Linked DNA regions of Homo sapiens: regions 1 and 2 are each linked to region 3. Evidence: fine-mapped QTL for protein levels in blood plasma. A gene starts in region 3. Each other region holds a variant in brackets. All regions are shown on one strand. Distances are between the middles of the regions. Region 1 has its middle 55 kb from the start of MEPE. Region 2 has its middle 24 kb from the start of DMP1-AS1. Region 3 holds the start of MEPE (matrix extracellular phosphoglycoprotein).

What was found. PIP is the posterior inclusion probability: the model's chance that the variant is causal. Protein levels are from antibody-based Olink assays in UK Biobank. Linkage for the fine-mapping came from a reference panel and not from the study's own genotypes, which makes the PIPs less certain.
Region 1: its variant is fine-mapped to the plasma level of the MEPE protein (UK Biobank, PIP above 0.99).
Region 2: its variant is fine-mapped to the plasma level of the MEPE protein (UK Biobank, PIP 0.96).

Annotation. Positions count from the first base shown.
Region 1 is chr4:87,884,114-87,892,303 of GRCh38, forward strand. It overlaps the pseudogene HSP90AB3P. Among named protein-coding and RNA genes, the nearest start is that of MEPE, 55 kb to the left of the region's middle. RefSeq lists an enhancer at 7,917-8,190. The variant T/C (reference allele first, on the strand shown) is at 3,874.
Region 2 is chr4:87,752,775-87,760,964 of GRCh38, forward strand. No RefSeq gene overlaps it. Among named protein-coding and RNA genes, the nearest start is that of DMP1-AS1, 24 kb to the left of the region's middle. The variant A/G (reference allele first, on the strand shown) is at 4,518.
Region 3 is chr4:87,829,259-87,837,448 of GRCh38, forward strand. MEPE (matrix extracellular phosphoglycoprotein) reads left to right here and starts at 3,711. Exons shown (of 4, transcript NM_020203.6): 1 at 3,711-3,756; 2 at 5,445-5,510. The coding sequence starts at 5,457.

The DNA of each region.
Region 1 (8,190 bases), 55 kb after region 3:
AGGCCCTCTAACATTGGGGATTACAAATCAACATAATATTTGAGTGGGGACACAGATCCAAATTCTATCAAGGATTTTAACAGTAGAAATGAAAAGCAAATCTAAACAAATAACAAAAAATAAATATTCCTTACAATCATTTATTCAATTTTATGACAAGTCCATTAACATGATTGTACACAGTACATCATCAGAGGCAATAATGGGAAATATGTGCAGGCCCACATCTTTCCAAAATGCATATTCTGTATTATCTGAATATTTCCTAGCAGACGCTAGAAAAAATAAATGCTCCTCCCCAAAGCAAAGAGTGGTCAAGTGTCCATTTCTTCTTGGTTCTACTATTGCAAGAGGAAGAATTGTTTTCTTTTAGGAAAAAAAAAATTAGCTTCCTTCAAAGGCATTAAAGAAAAAGGGAAAATAAGGTGGCCACAAATCTTATTCTGGTAAAGTGCACCTGCTTAGGTATCTTATGTAAGTCTTATTTTTTACACTCTTTCTTTACCTGAACTCCCCAATACCTACACACACACAAAAAGAACATGTCTCTCTTCCATTGACACACACAAAAAAACTTTACTCACAAAAGAAGCAGAATTGTATCTTTTTTTTTTTTAAGTAAATTGATCTCTGCAAGCCATCACTTCATTGTGCCAGGAACTGGGTTTTAAACCCTATCTTCTCATCTAGGAATTGATTTGTGTTTAAAGGAAAAATAAAGCAGGAACAGGGACATTTCCTTTTTCACGCTCATTTGAAAAAAACAAAAACAAAAAACTAATGGTGAGGTTCTGCCTGGCCTAAATGCTTTCCAAAGGAGACAGTAAGCTCCCACACAAAAAAACTAATAACTTAAAATTTCCCCCTCTCTTGTCCTCATTTGGGCTTAAAATATTACCAAGTATTAATTTTAGTGTTCTGCCTGGCTATTAAATCACAAACCACACTGGCTGGTGAGAAACGAAGAAAGAAAAGAACCATTATTCACAGGCAAACCAGACAGTCCCACAAATAGCTCTATAAAAGTAAACTAAGTTATAATTTCTCTCTCCCTCATGAGTCAGAAGAGAAGGGTTCTAACTATCCAACTATGCAAGTTTGGGGTGGGAATTTTTAATTGGACAAGCAAACAATTTACTTAGAGATAAGAGATTAGCAGAGAAAGTATGATCGGGTTGGTAAAGATTTGCCTACATTTTCTCTTCTGATAAGACGGCGATACAGAGGCCAGAGAGCCTGAGACCCGATCAGACTTCCAGATGTGTTTCCTGCCACACGTGACTGCACAGCACAGACGGTTACACTGTCATTCTACCATGTCACCGTGCCTTTCTTTCTGCCTTGTCCAACCCGTTTCTCTCCACCTGCTGTCTATGACTTCTCCTTTCTTCCCTCAAAAATTCTCCACTCTCACCCTCCATTAGGCATCTCCCTCTCCAAATCTCTCAAAATATTGCCCATTTCTATTGTATGGTCTACCCTCATTTGTCTTTCTTAGTGTTCGCTGGGCACATCTTCCAACTAGACTTTCGTAAGGTCTGTGAGAATGATGAACTTGTCCTTTCTTATCTTTCAGTTCTCTCATGTGCTTTGAACATGAAATAAGTACACTACGTTTGCTAAATGTTTTCTAATTGATGTTCTTTTGTTAGTACATCCTTTTATTTCCACCCGTCTCCTCATACACCATGGAATAAAGCCAAGAATAAAGCTGGAGTGAGGGAGATGAAATGTGAAGTTGCGTGTAGCAGGTGGAGGAAGGAGGGAAGGAGGAAAGCTCGGGGGAGAGGAACAAGGATACATGAAGACAGAAATGTACAGTCAGACTTCCCTGAACTTGAGCCCAAGAGGCAAAGAGATAGAAAACCCAGATAAATTTCATGACAGGGTTGGGCATTTCCTAGAGCAGAAGGAATAATTGCCTGGCTTTCCGGGGAACAGTCAAGAAGAGATCAAGCTTCACAAGGAAACATAACATCCGAAAAGATGCTCCCCAGGATATAACAGAGACACAGTAGTGTGCTGTGATTAGGCAGACAGACAGTCAGATTAGCACTTGTTCTCCTCTCTAAGCTCTGAAGTGCGAGAGAGAAATCCGGAAACTCCAATGTGCCCCAGAGTAGGCACAGAAGAGAGCTGACCAGAGGGGTGGAAATCTTGCTGAGGGACAGCCATGGTGAATGACGTCATAAAGCAGGCAGGCTGGATTAAGGCTGCATGGATGACATGGCAGAGATGTGAGGGGCCTACAATGCCAGCAACCCCAGGTAGGGTTAAGGCAGCAGAGGAGAACCACTGGGCCCGACCCAACCGGGAGAATAGGTAACAAATTCACCAGCTGCAGATTTTGTCAGAGGTCAACAGGGCATTCAGCATCCACCAGAGGCCCCAGCAGAGAGTACAAGAGCAAAGGAATTTTCTTCTTGCTTTAACTAAGCAAGTTAGTGCTATAGTCAAGTTTAATTGATGTCTGCAGGAGGAATCACCAAAAAGGAGTAAAACTTGTTTCCAGTTACCAGTACAGAGATTCCCAATTAAAAAAGATATGGGCAGTACAAGGGCCCCACAAACTTTCAGTCCATGTACCAAATGAAGACAGAATTCACTCCAAGAGGCCACATACACCAGATCCAATCAGGGTCAATTTAAGTTCATCATAATGCCACGTTTTGTTGTCACTTGTTTTCTGACCCAACACTTTGCCTAACTTGTACTAACCTGCTCAGGGAAATTGTATCATATTCTCAGAGGTGGAAAGGTCTTGTATAAACAGAAATAAGTATTTACGGAAAAGAGTTATAAACTGAGAGTACAACAGGTTCAAGGCTATGGCTTTTGCAGGCTGGAAAAAGTAGTCATACGTAGGTGAGTGTGTTCTCCCCCACCTTAAAGTAGGGCCCTCTTTATCCTTCCACCAAACCAAACAAAAACACACAGACAACAATTACTCTTTCAAGCATTAGCTCCCAAAAGGCAAATTTGGATGACAATTTCATGGGTGACAGAAACACATATGCCACACAGAAAATAAAACAATAATAATAAAACACACTAAACATTTCTATTTTCTTTCAAATTCCCTGTCAGATGCCAAGTTCATATTTCTTCTCCTGGCTCAATCCTTCTCCAAGATAGTCTTCAAAATCTCGTCTAGCAAAGTTCACATCTGTCCCTAAATTTGCAAACCACATTAGGAAAATAAAATCCTAAATTCTAAAATGAACCCAGTGGTAATTGAGCAAACATCTCTTCCTCTTTCTCTTCCTCATGCCTCCACCCTAAGCAGAAGTCTCCATCCAAAAATAGTGGATTTATTCACAGGGGTACCTAATAAAAGTACATTAGATGCTGCCTATATATTTATAATTGTGTCACATGCATGTAGTTGCAGAAATCTGGTTTATAACTTAGGTGTGGAATTTAAAACTAGTAAAGCGATTGTATGTTCTCATGTGCCTCACTTTGTCTCCTGTCTAATGAGACATGAGACATAATGTTGCATAGATTCTCAATGCTCAGGCATATGCACTCATGTTAATATGCACTTTATTTTAATGCCATACTGAAAGACTAGGCACAATCATAGATGCTCAAGTATCACTGATATTGTAGGCCCTCTTCCAGCTACAACCTTGATTGTTTTCATACACACATTCTTTCCATCCACATCACATTTTCATTTTTCTCCATTTTTTAAATACGTCACGATTTTTAAAATGTGATCCTGTACCTAGCAGTGGCTTATTCTCTTATAGGTCTCCAAATCAGAGACAGGGAGATGAAATAGCTTAGGTAATTTATGAGTATTCCCATCATTTTCTAATGTGAGATATTCTTAAAAGTGTCTGGCTTTTGCCCTCAAATAAAGCTAAA[T/C]TGGAATATCAGTTCTGCCACTTGTTAGTTTATTGATCTTGGATGAGTAAGAATCTCTCTGAGCCACAGTAAAATAATTAATAAAGCTTGTTATTACTTGTAAGAACAACATAACAATTGAGTGCCTACCATAACATTTGTGTGAAGATTTAATGAGATGATAAATTTAAGTTTCTCAGCCAGTACCTGGCACATAGCAAGCCAGTATGTATAAACTGTCATAAGGCAGGTGCTGGGCTAAAACTTTAATGTCTGTTATTGAATTTAATCCAGACAATACCCCTAGGACCTGCATACTTTACTGTCTCCATTTTAGCCAATGAGGAAACTGAGGGCTAAAAAGGTTAAATCACTTGCCTAGGATCACACAGTTGAAAATAATGAAGGGCCAAGTCTGTGTAACTCCTTATCTGTGAGATGGGCATAATAATTCTTTCCCTACAGTACTGTTCTCAGGATTAAATGAGCTAATACTGTAACATGTAACATGTAACAGTCACTCAGTACGTTTTCATTTCCTTCCTGTTCTGCCCATGTGTAACTCCTGACTTACAATTTATCCCATCAAATTAAAAATTATTAATAACTAAGATCAGAGCAGAATTGAAGGAGATAGAGATATAAAAACCCTCCAAAAAAGCAATGAATCCAGGAGCTGATTTTTTTGAAAAAATTAACAAAATAGATAGACCGCTAGCCAGGCTAATAAAGAAGAAAAGAGAGAAGAATCAAATAGACACAATAAAAAATGATAAATTGAATATCACCACTGATCCCACAGAAATACAAGCTACCATCAGAGAATACTATAAACACCTCTATGCAAATGAACTAGAAAATCTAGAATAAATGGATAAATTCCTGGACACATACAACCTCCCAAAACTAAACTGTCGGGGGAACCCACCCCCGATAATTCAACGTTATTTCACGTAGGTTCTTTTCTATTTCCCTAAGTGTCTGCTGGTCTGAGAAATAAAGGCAAAGAGCACAAAAGAGAGAAATTGTAAAGCTGGGTGTCCAGGGGAGACATTATGTGTCGGCAGGTTCCGTGATGCCCCCCAAGCCACAAAACCAGCAAGTTTTTAATAGTGATTTTCAAAGGGGAGGGAGTGTACAAATAGGGTGTTGGGTCACAGAGATCACATGCTTCAGAAGGTAATAAAATATTACAAGGCAAATGGAGGCAGGGTGAGGTCACAGGACCCGGGTGAAATTAAAATGACTAATGAAGTTTCGGGCACGCATTGTCATTGATAACATCTTATCAGGAGACAGGGTTTGAGAGCGGACAACCGGTCTCACCAAAGTTTATTAGGCAGGAATTTCCTCGTCCTAATAAGCCTGGGAGCGCTATGGGAGACCAGGGCTTATTTCTTCCCTTACCTACAACCGTAAAAGACAGACATTCCCAGAGCAGCCATTTCAGAGACCTTCCCCTAGGAAGGCATTCTCTTTGCTGAAAAAAAGAATTCAGCGATATTTCTCCTATTTGCTTTTGAAAGAAGAGAAATATGGTTCTGTTCTGCCCAGCTCTCAGGCAGCCAGACCTAATGGTTATCGCCCTTGTTCCCTGAACATCGCTGTTATCCTGTTCTTTTTTCAAGGTGCCCAGATTTCATATTGTTTAAACAATTTGTGCAGTTAACGCAATCATCACAGGGTCCTGAAGTGACATACATCCTCAGCTTACAAAGATGACGGGATTAAGAGATTAAAGACAGGCATAGGAAATCACAAGAGTATTGACTGGGGAAGTGATAAATGTCCATAAACTCTTCACAATTTATGTTCGGGAGATTGCAGTAAAGACAGGCATAAGAAATTATAAAAGTATTAATTTGGGGGAACTAATAAATGTCCATGAAATCTTCACAATTTATGTTCTTCTGCCATGGCTTCAGCCAGTCCCTCCATTCGGGGTCACTGACTTCCCGCAACACTAAACCAGGAAGAAGTCAATAACAAGAATTATTATTTTACACCCAGCTTTACAATTTCTCTCTTTTGTGCTCTTTGCCTTTATTTCTCAGACTGGCAGACACTTAGGGAAATAGAAAAGAACCTACGTGAAATAATGTTGAATTATCGGGGGTGGGTTCCCCCGATAGTTTAGTTTTGGGAGGTTGTATGTGTCCAGGAATTTATCCATTTCTTCTAGATTTTCTAGTTCATTTGCATAGAGGTGTTTATAGTATAGAATAAATCTTGTTATTGAATAGATCAATAACAAGTTCTGAAATTGAGGCAGTAATTAATAGCCTACCAACCATAAAAAGCACAGGACCAGATGGATTCACAGCTGAATTCTACCAGTGGTATAAAGAGCTGGTACCATTCCTCCTGAAATGATTCCAAACAATTGAAAAGGAAGGACTCCTCCCTAACTCATTTTATGAAGCCAGCATCATCCTGATACCAAAACCTACCAGAGACACAATAAAAAAAAGAAAACTTAAGGCCAATATCCCTGATGAATATTGATGTGAAAATCCTCAATACAATACTGGCAAACCAAATCCAGCAGCACATTAAAAAACTTATCCACCACAATCAAGTCAGCTGCATCCCTAGGATACAAAGCTGGTTCAATATATGCAAATCAATAAATGTAATCCATCACATAAACAGAAGCAAAGACAAAAACCACATGATTTTCTCAATAGATGCAGAAAAGGCCTTTGATAAAATTCAACATCTCTTCAGGTTAAAAACTTTCAATAAACTAGGTATTGATGGAACATATCTCAAAATAATAAGAACTATCTATGACAAACCCACAGCCAATATCATATTTAATTGGCAAAAGCTGGAAGCATTCCCTTTGAAAACTGGTACAAGACACAGATGCCCTCTCTCACCACTCCTATTCAACATAGTATTGGAAGTTCTGGCCAGGGCAATCAGGCAAGATAAATAAAGAGTATTCAAATAGGAAGAGAGGAAGTGAAACTGTCTCTGTTTGCAGATGACATGATCCTATATTTAGAAAACCCCACCATCTGAGCCCAAAAACTCCTTAAGCTGATAAGCAACTTCAGCAAAGTCTCAGGATACAAAATCAATGTGCAAAAATCAAAAGCATTCCTCACACCAACAATAAACAAGCAGAGAGCCAAATCATGAACAAACTCCTATTCACAATCACTACCAAGAAAATAAAATACCTAAGAATACAGCTAAGATGGGATGTGAAGGACCTCTTCAAGGAGAAACATGAACCACTGCTCAATAAAATAAGAGTGAACACAAACAAATGGAAAAACATTCCATCCTCATGGATAGGAAGAATGAATATTGTGAAAATGACCATGCTGCCCAAAGTAATTTATAGATTTGATGCTATTCCCATCAAACTACCACTGACATTCTTCACAGAATTAGAAAAGAATTACTTTAAATTTCATTTGGAATCAAAGAAGGTCATGTATAGCCAAGACAATCCTAACCAAAAAGAACAAAGCTGGAGACATCATGCTACCTGACTTCAAACTATACTACAATAATGCAGTAACCAAAACAGTGTGGTACTGGCACCAAAACAGACAAAGACCAATAGAATGGAGCAGAGACATCAGAAATAATGCCACACATCTACAACCATCTGATCTTCAACAAACCTGACAAAAACAAGCAACAGGGAAAAGATCTCCTATTCAATAAATGATGCTGGGAAAACTGGCTAGGCATATGCAGAAAACTGAAACTGGACCCCTTCCTTACACCTTATACAAAAATTAACTCAAGATGGATTAAAGATGCTCTCAAGTCACTCCAGCACAGCGTTGGTGCTGCCTGGGTATCAGAAAGCAAGCTCACATTGCTCTCCAGTACGTGTAAGCCTTTTCTTTTCAAGATGCCTGAGGAAGTGCACCATGGAGAGGAGGAGGTGGAGACTTTTGCCTTTCAGGCAGAAATTGCCCAACTCATATCCCTCATCATCAATACCTTCTATTCCAACGAGGAGATTTTCCTTCAGGAGTTGATCTCTAATGCTTCTGATGCCTTGGACAAGATTCGCTATGAGAGCCTGACAGACCCTTCAAAGTTGGACAGTGGTAAAGAGCTGAAAATTGACATCATCCCCAACCCTCAGGAACGTACCCTGGCTTTGGTAGACACAGGCATTGGCATGACCAAAGCTGATCTCATAAATAATTTGAGAACCATTGCCAAGTCTGGTACTAAAGCATGCATGGAGGCTCTTCAGGCTGGTGCAGACATCTCCATGATTGGGCAGTTTGGTGTTGGCTTTTTTCTGCCTACCTGGTGGCAGAGAAACTGGTTGTGATCACAAAGCACAACGATGATGAACAG
Region 2 (8,190 bases), 76 kb before region 3:
ATGGGAACTATAATTTAAGATGAGATTTGGGTGGGGATACAGCCAAAACATATTATACCATCCCTGACCCCTCCCAAATTTTATGTTTTTACAATTTAAAACACAACTATGCCCTTCCAAAAGTCCCCCAAAATCTTAACTTATTCTGGCATTAACTTACAAGTTCAAGTTTAAAGTCTTATTTGGGACAAGCAAGGCCCTTTTGCCTATGACCCTAGAAAATTAAAAACAAGTTAGTTACTTTCCAGATACAATGGGGTACAAGCATTGGGTAAATACACCCATTCCAAATGGGAGAAATTGGCCAAAACAAAGGGAGTACAGGCCCCATGCAAGTCCAAAATCCAATATGGCAGTTATTAAACTTTAAAGTTTTAAAATCATTTTCTTTGACTTTATGTCTTACATTCAGATTACACTGATGCAAGAGGTGGGCTTCCACAGCCTTTGGAAGCTCCACCCCTGTGGCTTTGCAGGGTACAGCCCCCCTCCTGGCTGCTTTCATAGGCTGCTTTGAGTGTTTATGGCTTTTTCAGGTGCACAGTGCAAATTGTTGATGGATTTACCATTTTGGGGTCTGGAGCACAGTGGCACTTTTCTCACAGTTCCACTAGGCAATGCCCCAGTGGGGACACTGTGTGGTAGTTCCAACTCCATTTCCCTTCTGCACTGCCCTAGCAGAGGTTCTACATGAAGGCTCTGCTCCTGCAGCAAACTTCTGCCTGGACATCCAGGCATTTCTGCACATTACCTGAAATGTAGTCAGAGGTTTTCAAATTTTAATTCTTTACTTCTGTGCACCTGCAGGCCCAACACCACATGTAAGCCACCAAGGCTTGGGGCTCACATCCTTTGGAGCAATTGCCTGAGCTTTATGTTGGCCTCTTTTAGCCATGGCTGGGACGTGGGGCACCATGCCCCAGGACTGCACAAAGCAGCCAGGCCCTGGGGCCAGTACACAAAACTATTTTTCCCCCTAAGCATTTTGGCCTGTGATGGGAGGGGCTGCCATGCAGACCTTTGACATGCCCTGGAGACATTTTATCCATAGTTTTTGTGGTTAACATTTGGCTTCTTGTGACTTATGCAAATTTCTGCAGCCAGCTTGAATTTCTCCTTAGAAATTTTTTTTTCTATTGCATTGTTAGGCTGCAAATTTTCTGAAATTTTATGCTTTGCTTTCCTTTAAACATAAGTTCCAATTCCAAACCATATCTTTGTGAATGAATAAAAAATGAATGCTTTTAAGAGCACCCAAGTCACAGCTTGAATGGTTTGCTGCTTAGAAATTTTTTCTGCCAGATACCCTAAATTATCTCTTTTTTTTTAATTATACTTTAAGTTCTAGGGTACATGTGCACAATGTGCAGGTTTGTTACATATGTATACATGTGCCATGTTGGTGTGCTGCACCCATTAACTCGTCATTTACATTAGGTATATCTCCTAATGCTATCCCTCCCCCTCCCCCTCCCCCCACCCCACAACAGGTCCCAGTGTGTGATGTTTCCCTTCCTGTGTCCAAGTGTTCTCAGTGTTCAATTCCCACCTATGAGTGAGAACAGACAGTGTTTGGTTTTCTATCCTTGCGATAGTTTGCTCAGAATGATGGTTTCTAGCTTCATCCATGTCCCTGCAAAGGATATGAACTCATCCTTTTTTATGGCTGTATAGTATTCCATGGTGTATATGTGCCACATTTTCTTAATCCAGTCTATCATTGATGGACATTTGGATTGGTTCCAAGTCTTTGCTATTGTGAATAGTGCCACAATAAACATATGTGTGCATGTGTCTTTATAGCAGCATGATTTATAATCCTTTGGGTATATACCCAGTATGGGATGGCTGGGTCAAATGATATTTCTAGTTCTAGGTCCCTGAGGAATCGCCACACCGACTTCCACAATGGTTGAACTAGTTTACAGTCCCACCAACAGTGTAAAAGTGTTCCTAATTCTCCACATCCTCTCCAGCACCTGTTATTTCTTGACTTTTTAATGATCACTGTTCTAACTGGTGTGAGATGGTATCTCATTGTGGTTTTGATTTGCATTTCTCTGATGGCCAGTGACGATGAGCATTTTTTCATGTGTTTTTTGGCTGCATAAATGTCTTCTTTTGAGAAGTGTCTGTTCATATCCTTCACCCACTTTTTGATGGAGTTGTTTGTTTTTTTCTTGTAAATTTGTTTGTGTTCATTGTAGATTCTGGATATTAGCCCTTTGTCAGATGAGTAGGTTGCAAAAATTTTCTCCCATTCTGTAGGTTGCCTGTTCACTCTGATGGTGTTTTCTTTTGCTGTGCAGAAGCTCTTTAGCTTAATTAGATCCCATTTGTCAATTTTGGCTTTTGTTGCCATTGTTTTTGGTGTTTTAAACATGAAGTCCTTGCCCATGCCTATGTCCTGAATGGTAATGCCTAGGATTTCTTCTAGGGTTTTTATGGTTTTAGGTCTAACATGTAAGTCTTTAATCCATCTTGAATTAATTTTTGTGTAAGGTGTAAGGAAGGGATCCAGTTTCAGCTTTCTACATATGGCTAGCCAGTTTTCCCAGCACCATTTATTAAATAGGGAATCCTTTCCTCATTTCTTGTTTTTGTCAGGTTTGTCAAAGATCAGATGGTTGTAGATGTGTGGTGTTATTTCTGAGGACTCTGTTCTGTTCCATTGGTCTATATCTCTGTTTTGGTACCAGTACCATGCTGTTTTGGTTACTGTAGCCTTGTAGTATAGTTTGAAGTCAGGTAGTGTGATGGCTTCAGCTTTGTTCTTTTGGCTTAGGATCGACTTGGCAATGCAGGCTCTTTTTTGGTTCCATATGAACTTTGAAGTAGTTTTTTCCAATTCTGTGAAGAAAGTCATTGGTAGCTTGATGGGGATGGCATTGAATCTATAAATTACCTTGGGCGGTATGGCCATTTTCACGATATTGATTCTTTCTATCCATGAGCATGGAATGTTCTTCCATTTGTTTGTATCCTCTTTTATTTCGTTGAGCAGTGGCTTGTAGTTCTCCTTGAAGAGGTCCTTCACATCCCTTGTAAGTTGGATTCCTAGGTATTTTATTCTCTTTGAAGCAATTGCGAATGGGAGTTCACTCATGATTTGGCTGTTTGTCTGTTATTGGTGTATAAGAATGCTTGTGATTTTTGCACATTGATTTTGTATCTTGAGACTTTGCTGAAGTTGCTTATCCACTTAAGGAGATTTTGGGCTGAGATGATGGGGTTTTCTAAATATACAATCATGTCATCTGCAAACAGGGACAATTTGACTTCCTCTTTTCCTAATTGAATACCCTTTATTTCATTCTCCTGCCTGATTGCCCTGGCCAGAACTTCCAACAGTATGTTGAATAGGAGTGGTGAGAGAGGGCATCCATGTCTTGTGCCAGTTTTCAAAGGGAATTCTTCCAGTTTTGCCCATTCAGTATCACGTCTTACATGGCAATAGGCAAGAGAGAAGAATGAGTGCCCAGCAAAGGGGAAAGCCCCTTGTAAAACCGTCACATCTTGTGAGAACTTACTATCATGAGAACAGAATAGGGGAAACCACCCCCATGATTTAATTATCTCCACCTGGTTCCTCCCTTCCCATGACACATGGGGATTATGGGAACTACAATTTAAGATGAGATTTGAGTGTGGACACAGCCAAACCATTTCATACTTTTTGAAAAAAATACAACCGGATACTTATTTTTCCAATATAAAATTTAAAAATTAACATGAATTAAATAATTAAATGGGAAAATGAATAATACAAATCTTGTAAGAAGGCCTAGGAGACCTAACAACAGTCTATAGATGATGAAGTGCTTATATACTTGGAGCTAAAACAGAACAAAAACCAATATATTTTTAATAAAAATGAAGTAACAATGGATTTAAAGAAGATAATTACAACATATATTAAGACAAAGTGGTAGCTATACTAAAAATGGAGAAGTAAAAGACAGAAAAGTCAGCAAGAAATATGTATGGGAAACCTAGGTATCTCATAAATATGAAAAGATGGTCGAATTTACTGGTAGTGAAATACAGATTAAAGTAACAATGAATATTATTGCACACTTACCAAGCTGGCAAAGGTGTAATAAATAGCGCTCTCTCCAAAGTGGAAATTGTTGCCACTGCTTTTCTAAAAGCAGCTTAGAAATACGTGTTGAAATTTTAAAATTAATGCATATGCTTTGATTTAATACCCCTTCAGGGAATCTATCCTATGTAAATCAAGCTTGTGGTATACAATGACATGTTATAAGAAAGTCTATTGTACTCTTATTAATAGTGGGAAAAGAATAAATAAATAGATGAAAGCATAACAAATGACCATCAATTGGAGAATTATGGTATAAATTATGCCACAGTCATGCTATATGATATTTATTAAGAAGAAGAAATCAGAGCTAAATAGTTGAAGTGATATTCATGACATCTATATTGTTGTGTAAAATATATAAGATGGGTGGTTATACAGGTATTCACATATAATAATTTTTATAAAAGAAAAG[A/G]AAAAATATATGCATCTTATAGTCAATAAATGTCTGTATGTGATTCTATGAACATATAGAAATGAAGAAGTGGAAGGATACATACTAAGTTGTTATGAATGAGAGAATATATGTGGGGTGGAGGAGGCAGGTTATGAGTGTGAGGAGAAGGAAAAGGGAGAACCAAAAATGCAAAGAAAGGTTGTACTTGAAATAATAATCTGCTTATGATTATGGCCTCTAGCTGCATCCACATTGTTGCAAAGGACAGTTCTTTTTTATGGCTGGGTAGTATTCTATGGTGTGTATGAACCATATCGTCTTTATCCAATCACCATTCCTGGGAAGGCAGGTTGATTCTATGTATTTGCTATTGTGAATAGCACAGCAAAGAACATACGAGTGCATGTGTCTTTTTGGTATAAGGATCCATTTCCTTTGGGTATATACCCAGTAATGGGCTACTGGGTCAAATGGTAGTTCTGGTTTAAGTTCTCTGAGAAATCTCCAAACTTCTTTCCATAGTGGCTGAACTAATTTACGTTCCCACCAAGAGTGTATAAGCATTGCCTTTCTCTTCAGCCTTGCCAGCATCTGTTTTAATATCTCATGTCATCATTTATAAATGGGAACTAACCATTGAGCACAATGGATGTAAACACGGGAACAATAAACACTGCAGACTACCAGAAGGGGAGAGGGAGAGAAAGGGGAATGGGTTGCAAAAGTGCCTATTGGGTACTATGCTTACTACGTGGTTGCAATATACCCATATAACAAACCTGCACATGTACCCCCTGTGCCTAAAATAAAAGCTGAAATTAAAAAAATCAAATCTGCATTATGCATTAATGTAAAAGTATTTTTATATATATATACAAATAAAAGTTAAAGTTTAAAAAATAGAAAACAAGAACGTACTGCTTAATGCAGATCTCCCAAGAGAACTTCCGATTGAAGGCAGAACATGGCGTAAGTCCACCTGGGATCCCAGCTACTGGGCCCACCCTCAGGCTTGTTCCTGTCTCATTCCCTTTTTCTAACTATTTTAGTTTCAACATAACCTGGTTTGAATTTCCACAGATGGGTAGGAGACAGAAGAACCTCCAGGAAGTTGGAAATGGTATGAATACAAAAAGACATAAAGTGCTTCATGATTTTGGAGTTTCCTTTTGGGATGATGAAATGTTTTAGAACTACATAGACGTGATGATTGCACAACATTGTGAATGTACTAAATGCCAATGAGTTGCACACTTTTCAAAAGTTAATTTATGTTAAGTAAATTTTATCTTAATTTTTAAAAGGCATGAGGAATGTTACAGACATATATATATTCTGGGGTGCCATTTTCTGAACGTAGTTCAAGAGTCACAGCCACTTGGAGGCTTATGCCAAGCATATGGACACAGATGTGAGGTCATCTGTTTTAATTGTATCCTTATTTACCTTTGAAATACAGTTCTTCCATCTCCCAAAGAAGATGCTATCCAAAGATTGCTCACATTCATTGACATGAACTGAGGGCCAGTGACTAAAATGGACCCATTTGTGATTCTGGACTAATATTTCCCACAATTTCATCCATATCATTCAAAACTATACCATCTGGGAAAATAAGACTATATATTCTCAACTATAAATCTTGGGAGACCCTACGTGCCAGGAACTAGGAATCATGCAACCGGGATGTATCAACCTTCAGAAGCAACATACCCCCTCTGGGTCTCAGTCTCAAATAGTACTTGGTCACCTGAATAAATGTTTAGCCTATTAGAGTAAAAAATGTACAGACTACTAGATTAACTAATTAACCTTGTCTGATGCAATTTGCAGTCAGATATCTGTGCTGGCCCTCCCTCCTGGCCATTTTCTTCTTAGCAAAAACAGCACAGGGTCCATGCATTAAGGTCCTGGCTTTGGTCTCTATTTTATCTCATCACCAAATTCAGGGGCACAGACATCATCAACTGACTCCTCCACCCGAGACCCAGTCTCTTCCTCTCTCTGCCTGTGTGCACAGGACTGGCACCATGGGAAGCTCTCTGGAACTTAGGTCTTCTAGTTCAAGATTTGTGTGCCGGCACTCCTGGTGCTCAGATATCCCATGGAGTATCCTTTGGGAATAAGTACAAAGTTCAGAGGTGTGTGTGTGTGTGTCCAGTGTGTGACAAAGAGTTCATACTCATGAACACTGATGCTTTACCAAAATGACTAGGATTCTAATACACTAAAGAATAAACTCCCCATAGCACCTGTAGAAATTTATGCTCAGAATTATCATCTTCCATCTATATAGACTCCTTAGCTATCTTATTTCAGACTAGAACCCACATTTTTATTTACAAACTCTTTTCTACCCACTGAAATTCAATGCCATTAGCTGACCATTCTTAAACCAATAACCAGAGATAAATGATTGCCTCCCAGAATAGTATCTTCAGCACTACTCACCTACTAGCCAACTGGATAGTCTTCCTTCCCACCACTGAATTAACATAAAATTAATCCATCTACTCCTACACAAGCACTACAGTTGCCATCAAGATACTTCCTGGTTCCCAATTTCTACCCGTTATCTCCAACACAGATGATTTTCCTGGGAAATTCCTTGTTACACATCAATTTACTACAGTAACACTTTCAGCAAGACAAAGTACCTTGTGCATGTTAATTACAAGGGGAAAGCTAGTGCAAATGGAAAATTAAATACATTTTATTGATCTCTTCATTCCAGTCCCTGGATTTTCCTCTTTTCCCCACTGTTTTTGTCCCTTTGAACTCCCTAATACAATTTTGATTATATTAGTTGAAACGCTTTCTTGCCATACCTTGTACGCCTTTGCTTCTGTTTGCTTTCACCACATTCAGTCTACATCCTGCCAATTCTACAACCATTTATACCATCTGGCTTCTTCATCCCTACATCTGGGTTTCTGGGTGCTTCTGGAAAAAGTAACACAAAAGCACAGTTTTATGTCATTACTACTAATAAGAGTTTATCTCTGGCTCATTTCCAGTGTTGGAATTGAAGGTGAGATCTTGGCCGAAAAGGTGCATCTAAACTGAGGTTAAGGAAGAGCAGAAATCAAGACCCCTATGAAGGAAGGTAGTTTGTAGAGAAGAGACTAGGACAGGAAAGAGCAGAGAGATCACATGGAAAGAGAGACAGAGAGGCTGCCTCTGACATTCCAGTTTCATTATATTGCTCTAGTTGAGTTCCCATTTCTTGAGATATCTTGAGAGGATTTTTGTTCCCTGAAAACAAATGATTCCTCACTAAATACGGCCTACCCTTCCAGATAGCTTGGTTTCCACACTTGCCAGTCTGGCCATGCCCAAATTCACCCTGCTGGAAAATACAGTCTCCATTGGCTAACATTTTCTCAACTAACTCATGCGTTTGCATTGTGATATAACTTTTGAATTTTGTATTTAAATGTGTAAATGTTTTAAATGTGTGAGTATTTCCTCCTTGGATTGCAAGTTTCAGATTGTATTCTTCATTTCTTTTTATAACCTTGGATCCCATAACTTTATGATCATGTGTAGATGATCTCTAGATACTTGTTGAATGAACAAACAAGTAAGTAAATATCTCATTCTTCAGTAGTCTCTGGAAAGATGATAATAGCAAGAAGCTCTGGAGTCTTTGAGCACTCAGAAAGAGCCAGCAATAAGAGATGGGGAAGCC
Region 3 (8,190 bases):
AGTTGAATTTTTTTATGTAGCTTTGAATTCATTTTAGCTTTGAGAGCAGTATATTTAGCTACTGCCAGTTCACCCCTTGGTAGGACTAGTAGCTAAGCCAGTTTTTTTCTCTTAAAACTCTATAAATTTTCTTATCCTAGAACACAGGTTTTTCTAGATCATAATTAATTTTCCATCACTCAAATGAAAGGGAAATCTTTTTCATGCACACTGAAATTTATTTGAAACTAAGAAAAATGCATTTGAGGAATATCTGAAATTATTTATAAAATTATAGCAATAAAAAAATGAACATTTCCTAAGGCACATATCAAGTGTTTGCTCTATAACTGGATCATTCAAAATATAAAGTTAATGTTATGAAACAGTGTAACAGCTTAAAACACTGCATTATATACACATTATTATAGAAATTCCTGAATTATTTATTGCTTCAATAGCATATCCAAAGTTGAAAATGAGCATTTTTTGTGGATTTCACTTGTCTTCCATTTAGAAAGCTCTATATTTCCATTCAGTCTCAGAGTTGGCTGAACACTCTTTGTTGCCTTCTTTCCTTCCTTGACTTCCATTCCCTTGTTAGCTCCTTTCTATATCACCCAAATCCTTTTTTTTTTTTTTTTTGGACTTTGCTGAAATTCTGGTCATGGATACTGTGCTCCTTATTTTCAGTTGGAGAAACTGAGGCACAGAAAAGTTCAAATTAGTTGTTTAATCAACTTGCCACAGTAAACAGGTGGTAGAGTCAGGATTTGAACTCAAGTCTGTTTGCCTCCAAAGCTACTAGAGTTCTAGAGTTCAATATTTCCACTGTCAATGACAATATTCAAATATTCTAAAATCTATGCTTGAATGGTTGTAAGTCAACAGTGGCCCCACCCAATAGCTCAAACCTAGTCCTGGAAGATGTTCTTAAAAGCAGTTCTGTAAAAGCAGAACTACTGTTTGATCCAGTAATCCCATTACTGGGTATATACCCGGAGGAATATAACACATTCTTCCATAAAGACACATGCACACGGCTGTTCATTGCAGCCCTGTTCACAATGGGAAAGACATGGAATCAACTTAAATGCCTATCAGTGACAGACTGGATAAAGAAAATGTGGTATGTATACACCATGGAATATTATGCAGCTATAAAAATGAAAGAGATCATGTCCTTTGTGGGAACATGGCTGGAGCTGGAGGCCATTATCTTCAGCAAACTAACGCAGGAACAGAAAACCAAATACCACATGTTCTCACTTATAAGTGGGAGCTAAATGATAAGAACTTATGAACACAAAGAAGGAAACAACAGACATTGGGGTCTACTTGAGGGTGAAGGGTGGGAAGAAGGAGAGGAACAGAAAAGATAACTATTGGGTACTGAGCTTAATACCTGGGTGATGTAGTAATATGTACAACAAACCCCAGGGACATGTGTTTATCTATGTAATGAACCTTCACATGTACCTCCAAACCTAAATAAAAATTTTTTTAACAAGAAGACATGAGGTGAGGGAGAGGAGGAAAAGCAGCTCTGGATACTCAAAAGAGGAACAGCAGAATTTAGATATGATAAAAAAAAAAAAAGAGAGAGTTAGCTTGACCTAGAAAAGGCACCATTTTCTCAGGTAGAACTTATGAAATACTGTTTTGTTTGTGTTTTATGTTTTGGTTTTTGTCTATTTGGAGGGTTGAGATAAATTGACAGTTTACACTTAAATCTTATTATATATCATTTGTATATATAATATACAACTGTTAAAGGTGTGTTTCACTGTAGGTAGTTCTTATCACAAAGTATAGGTTAAATAACTCTTACATAATTTCTTATTGATGCTTTAATATATAGTCATAATGTCAATGACCTTTACAGGTATTATAATATTTTTATATTAAGTGGAACCTCTCAAACTATTACAATTATTTTGGTAGCCAGTTTGGGCAAAACAAGAGAGCAGGCAATCGCACTGGAAAGGCTTATTCTAGTATAGGTTTGTTACTTGTTTCATTAAGAAATTGAGTGTCTTAAATTGTCCATCTTATAAAATTTGTCTAAATCCAAACTCACAATATTTTCCTCAAAACCATTTTCTTCTGCATTTTTTCCAATATGAAGAAAAAATCAACTTTACTCTTCCAGTTGCTCAGGTCAAAACCTTGGTGTCATCCTGATTCTTGATTGTTTTCTCACAGGCCACATCTGGTACCTCAGCAAATCCTATTACCATTTTTCCCCAAACTTCTTCAGAATATGACCACGTCTCATCATCCCTTCTGCCGCACTCAGGTTCAAGCCTCCATCATCTCTGGCTGGGATTATTACAAGAGCTTCCTAGCCATTCTCTCTGCCTTTTTCCTACTTCAGTCACTCCTCAATCATGCCTGTGCTTAAAACCTCCAAGGACTTTTCTTCTCACTCATAGCAATGTCAAAAGCATTGCAATGACCTACAGGTCCTATACCATCTGCCATCTAATACCCTTCTGACCTCATTTGTTGCTATTCCCCTTGCTCAGGCCTCCAACCAAAGTGGCCTCTTCTCTGTTCCTGGAACAAGTCACAAGGCTTTTATTTCTGGGGCACTATTTTTCTTATTTCTTCTTCCTGGAATGGTCTTCCCATAGACAGTCATATGGCTGCAGGCTTATCTGAGTCTGTTCATGCTGCTACTACAGAATACCACAGACTGGGTAATTTATAAAAAACAGAAATTTATTTCACACAGTTCTGGAGGCTGGGAATTCCGCAATGAAGAGGCCAGCATGTTCATTGCCTGACGAGGGCTGTCTATCTCTTCTTCCAATTTGGCACCTTGCTACTGCATCTCCAGAGGGGACAAATGCTGTGTCTTCACACTGCAGACAAGCAGAAGGGCAAAAAGGGACTAGCTAGTTTCTTCTTGCCCTTTTATAAGGTCATTAATCCCATTCATACTGGGGTCTGCCTTCATGACTTAATCACCTTCTAAAGAGCCCATCTCTCAATACTGTCACCTTGGGTTTAAGTTCTAACATGGGAATTTTGGAGGGACACGTACATTGAAACCATAACAAGGTCTTTACTCAAAAGTTGCCTTCTCATTGAGGCCTTCCCAGGACTTCCTATCTAAAATTTCAACCCAGTGTCCCCACCCCCAATGCTTGTTACTCCCCAACAATACTTTTTCTCCTTAGACTTAGTATATGTCACTATCTAATCTATTTAACTCATTTATCTTGTTTATTATCTGTCTCCCTTATTGGATTCTAAGCTCCAGGAAGACAGGGATTTTTTTCTGTCTTGTTTTGTTCACTGCAGTTTCGCCAATGCCTGTCACACAGTAGGCACCTAAAACATTTTTGTTAAATGTTGCTGAATTTCACTTAGATAAAATTGACATCATAAACTTTCTACATAAAAGGATAGCAAAAATGTTTTCCATTTCTAAACTTGTTAGGTATTCAGTCAGTCCTAATTAGCAGTTCTGAAATCAATTTTGATTATCTGACAACATGATGTCCAAACTGAGGTATTTATATTTTCTGTTTATCCCACTTTCTGGAACATTTGATAGTAGCTTTCTACCACAAACACATTTTTAGATTAAAATTACTTCACCCCCTATGGTTATCTGTGGGCGCTTGTAACAAATTGTTTGCTAGCGCTGAGTGAGCCAGTGCTGATTGGCCATTGGGAACTCTAACAAACTTTAAATTTCAGCAAAATGCCCAGAGACTTCTAATCCTGCAACAAGAAGCCAGGTATTCTGAAGGTGAAAGATACCAGGTAATTTGGCTTTCATGTTCTTGACAGCAAATAGCTTTATATCATAGTTGTTTACGTTTTTAAGATGCTTGCCACCCAAGTATGGTTTTATTACTTTTGAAAATCTTCTCTACTGAGCAAAACTGTGTAATATTTGGTGCTTTGTTTTATAAAATAGGAAATGCGTTACCATGCTCTAGAAATCATCAACTAAAATTGATGATTTGATAGCAACTTTCTCTTTTTTTTTGTTATTAGCATTATCAAGATCCACAGTAACTCAGACTTCAGTTTTCTTCTATCCCTTCACTTAACAAACTGCAATCAGGAAAATCTGATCTTATTCATACTTTGAAACCTCATCTGTGTTGATATTTCTACTGATGAGCATTAACTCATTTCATAAGTTACTTACGTTGTCCTGATCTATAAAATGCTTGGAAGGGTAAACTATAGTTAGAATTTAGATCCTTCTAATTGCATTAATTTAGAAAAACATAGCCTAGGATTTTAGAATATATTTAATAGTTACAATCATTTCTCCAAATACCAGCTTTTCCTTGAGGTGTTTAAAGATTGCAAGAATATTTAGATTATTTTTTCCCATAAAAACAAGTTTTTCTTCAAGAAATCTCAGAGTGGCATAAATTTATTGTTTTCACAATATAATAATAAGATCAATAGTCCAAAGACATGTTGACTTTTTTCCAATCTAATGGCTACTTAAGTGAGCTCACTAGTTCCTGTTGGTATATTTACCAAAATATAAACAAATACCTTTATTTGTAACTAAATGTTAGTATTTTGAACATCATTTTGTTGAGCCCAATATAAAATATGATTTGCCTTTAAGTCAACTGTACATGGATTTTTCTGTAATAAGATAAAAGAATAGAAAGTTATTTAAGGTGGCAGAGAGTCTTGATGAAGAAAACTGGGTCTAGAGCCACATTGCCTGGATACTAATCCCAGTTCTGCCCCTTAATATTTGTGAATTCTAAAGCAAGTTATTTGATCTTTTTGTGTCTATTTCCTAATCTATACAACAGGCATAGTAACGCCGCCTAACTTGTAGGGTTGTTGTGAGGCTCAAATAATTGAATGCATGCAAAATTCTTAGACCCAGTGCTTGGCTCATTTTAGTATTCAATAAATGTTAGCCATTAATGTCAGTGTTGCAAAAATTAGTTCACTCTCCAGCCCATGGATGGCTACTAATTCAGACACATTGCTAATGAACATGAGACACAGATTAGGGCACCAGCCCGGAGGCAGATAAGCTTTCCTCACAGTGCAATCTGCTACCCTGACAAACTTAGAGTGTGTTATGAGCTGCTACATCAACTTAATGTCATTTTGAATTACACAAATAATTAAACAATCTCTTTCTAAAGACAAGAGGAAGAAGAGCTGATGATAGAGCAAATAAATGTGTCTATAAAATATATTTCTATCAACTGACTTTACTGTTTTAATGATATTGAATAATTTTCATTTTCACATTGGAATAACTAGACATATGAAAGTTCTTAAAATGTCCACACTCGGGTATAAGCAAGTTATACATAGTCTATACACACACATACACAAAAGGATATGAACTGCCAAGGGGAAGGGTGTTTATATATTCCTATGTGTTTTATCTCTTCTTATGGCTGCAGTTTATAACTGGCAATGCTTTGTGGTAAGATATTGTTGTCTTTTTACAGAGATTCTCAAAGATGCGAGTTTTCTGTGTGGGACTACTCCTTTTCAGTGTGACCTGGGCAGCACCAGTAAGTATTTACAAATTCAATTATATTTCAGATAATCTCTTGCTCTCTTCATTTGTTTTTCTTTCAAGCAACGTCTATTTAAATTAGTAGCATCTACCTAATTCAGTTATTTTAAAAAGAACCAAGCAAACAGAAAGCATCTAGCACTTAACACTCTTAACAAAGGAGGTTCTCAATAAACATGTGCTGAATTATGAGATCTGACAACATTGTCTTTTAAGGAACACCAAAAACAGATTTTTTGAGAAAACCAAGAGGCAGCCGCAGCATTTCAAATCAGCTGATACTAATGAGTGATACTCAAAGACTCAAATTATAACATGGTAAAATAATCTTTGACTATTTTCCTGTAAACTTAAAGAATTTGACATGAATGTTTTAAAGCTAACCAGCTAGATTTAGTAAATAGATAAAAATGCAAAGAGACAAGAACTCTTCTGTATTTCTTGCAACACCCCAATACTGTGGGATCCTACTTGTGATTTTCTCTTCATCAGCGAGGCTAGAGGTGGGACGTAGTACCTCCAAGCTTAACCCAAATCAAGCTCCTACTTCCTTGTGTGTCTTTTCTTCCCTCTGACTCACCCAGTTGAATATTCAGGATGTGACCAAATTATCTTGTGAAAATGCTGAGTGTTAGTTATTTTCTGCAATGCAGACACAGTGCTAATTAGATAATGTCTGAGCAGCATCCTAACTTATCAGAATAACCTTTTTGGTTGGAGAACCATGGAAACAAATAGTCATCCCATTGCCAATCATACTTATATATAGGTCCTGAGTGAGTGGGTGACTGCTAGGGTAACCAGGCTGATGAGGATGACCAGGGAAGCAGAGGGCCTCATGGAGGGCAGTGGAAGTTGGGGAAATGTGTTCCCTTCTCCGCACACACTCTGTGCAACAAGGGTGTGCAGTACAGTACTGTGGAGGCTGTACTGCTCACAACACACATTTGCGAGACCCCATGCACAGACCTCACTCAATCAAGGCCTAGAGGCTCAGGTGCCTCTCCCACCTCTCACGGTGGAAAAATGAGTCTTGCTGACCTAGCTCAAGTTGGCCAGCTGAAGATTTTATTTTGAGCAACATGTTCCAAGAAGCAGCTGGAGTGGGGCTTTCTCATCATTTTCCAGTAAATGTGCTATGTCAACATTGATTCAGTGACCACTGATCAGAAGAGGATGCCAGCTTTCCTGCCCAGAGGCAGACAATGCCATCTCCATTACAGGGCCACATTCAAGCCTAAGACATCTGCTTGGGGGTATAGAGGGGACAAGGGAGGGATGCGTATTTCAAATGAAAGCAGCTCAGCAAGGATGCAGAGGCAACATTTGTAACTGTGAATCATTAAATATGATGTTTTCTTCCAGGTATATAGATGCCATTTTAGTAATTACCTGAATTTTTAAATGATAGATTGGTGGCTTAAGAAATTAGTATATACTCAGCCACTTGCATACGTCTTAGAATTATAAGCCAAATTCTAAATGATTTTTAAAAGGAAGAAAATGAATGTTTATTAGGCTATGCAATTCGGTTAATATTCATCAAGATGCAGTTAGACTAGAAAGACTTTGTTATAAGTCACAATAAATCAAAACTGTACCGAGGTACTCTATATTGTCAAGTATGTTTCTAATCCATATGTGTGTGTGTGTGTGTGTTCTGTAAGAAGATCCCTGACACCCCATACTATCATTTCTTTCTTTTGCTTAATATCTGCCCATCTCATTTTTATGCTTTCTTCTTCCTATAGTCCAATTTCCAGAACTGTTTGCCCTGGTTTTATATTTTTGAAGAGTGATATAATTGTCCAAATTTATATTCACATGATCATATAAGAATCAACATAAGAAATGCAATAAAGGATAAAACTATAAAAGATGCCTTGACGATAATTAATATAAAGTTTAGGAACATTTCCTCTTATTACTAAATGCTTTTTCATATTTAATCATTCAAAAATTTATTATTTTAACCCTGGGACTTTGAGGCAGAAGATTTAAATTAAAATATCTTCTCTACTTCTACTGCAACTACCAACTATGAGTGTAGGCACTTCTGTTTCTTCTACTGCTCATCTTATAAAGGTTACTTTGGGACTCATATGAGATTATAAGTACAAAAGCAGTTTACAAACTATAAAGAGTCCTATAAATAGAAGGTGTTATTGATAAACTATTGTTATTTTCTAGAATGGAATTGAATATTAGGCAGCTATGCCTTGGAGTCCAGCCATGGAGGTGCTTTCTAAACTTCTGAGTTTTATATTTTGAAGATGATTTTATCTGCCAGAGTCCAGTCCAGAAAACAAAATCCACTACAGGGAGCTCAGTAGAGCGACTTTCTAAGGGAAGCTAGCTATAAAGTATAAGGAAGAACAGAAAAGCCAACCAGGGGTGGTGAGACCACCCAAGGATCGAAGCTATTACCAGGCTTAGGGCTGGAAGGAAAAAAAAAGGTGCTGCTCCTAGGCCCCTGGCTGGGGGAACTAGGACCACAAAGGAGATGTACCCAACTCTAGAGATGCAGCCCCAAACACGGAGAGTAGAGAAGGACATACCCTGGCTTCTCTCTCCTTCCCCCCCTCCAGACTCATGCCAGGCCTCCTTCACCCAAACCCAGTCTGAACACAGAGGGCAAATGAGCTTGGGAAATGAAGGAATCAGTTCAGATTGAG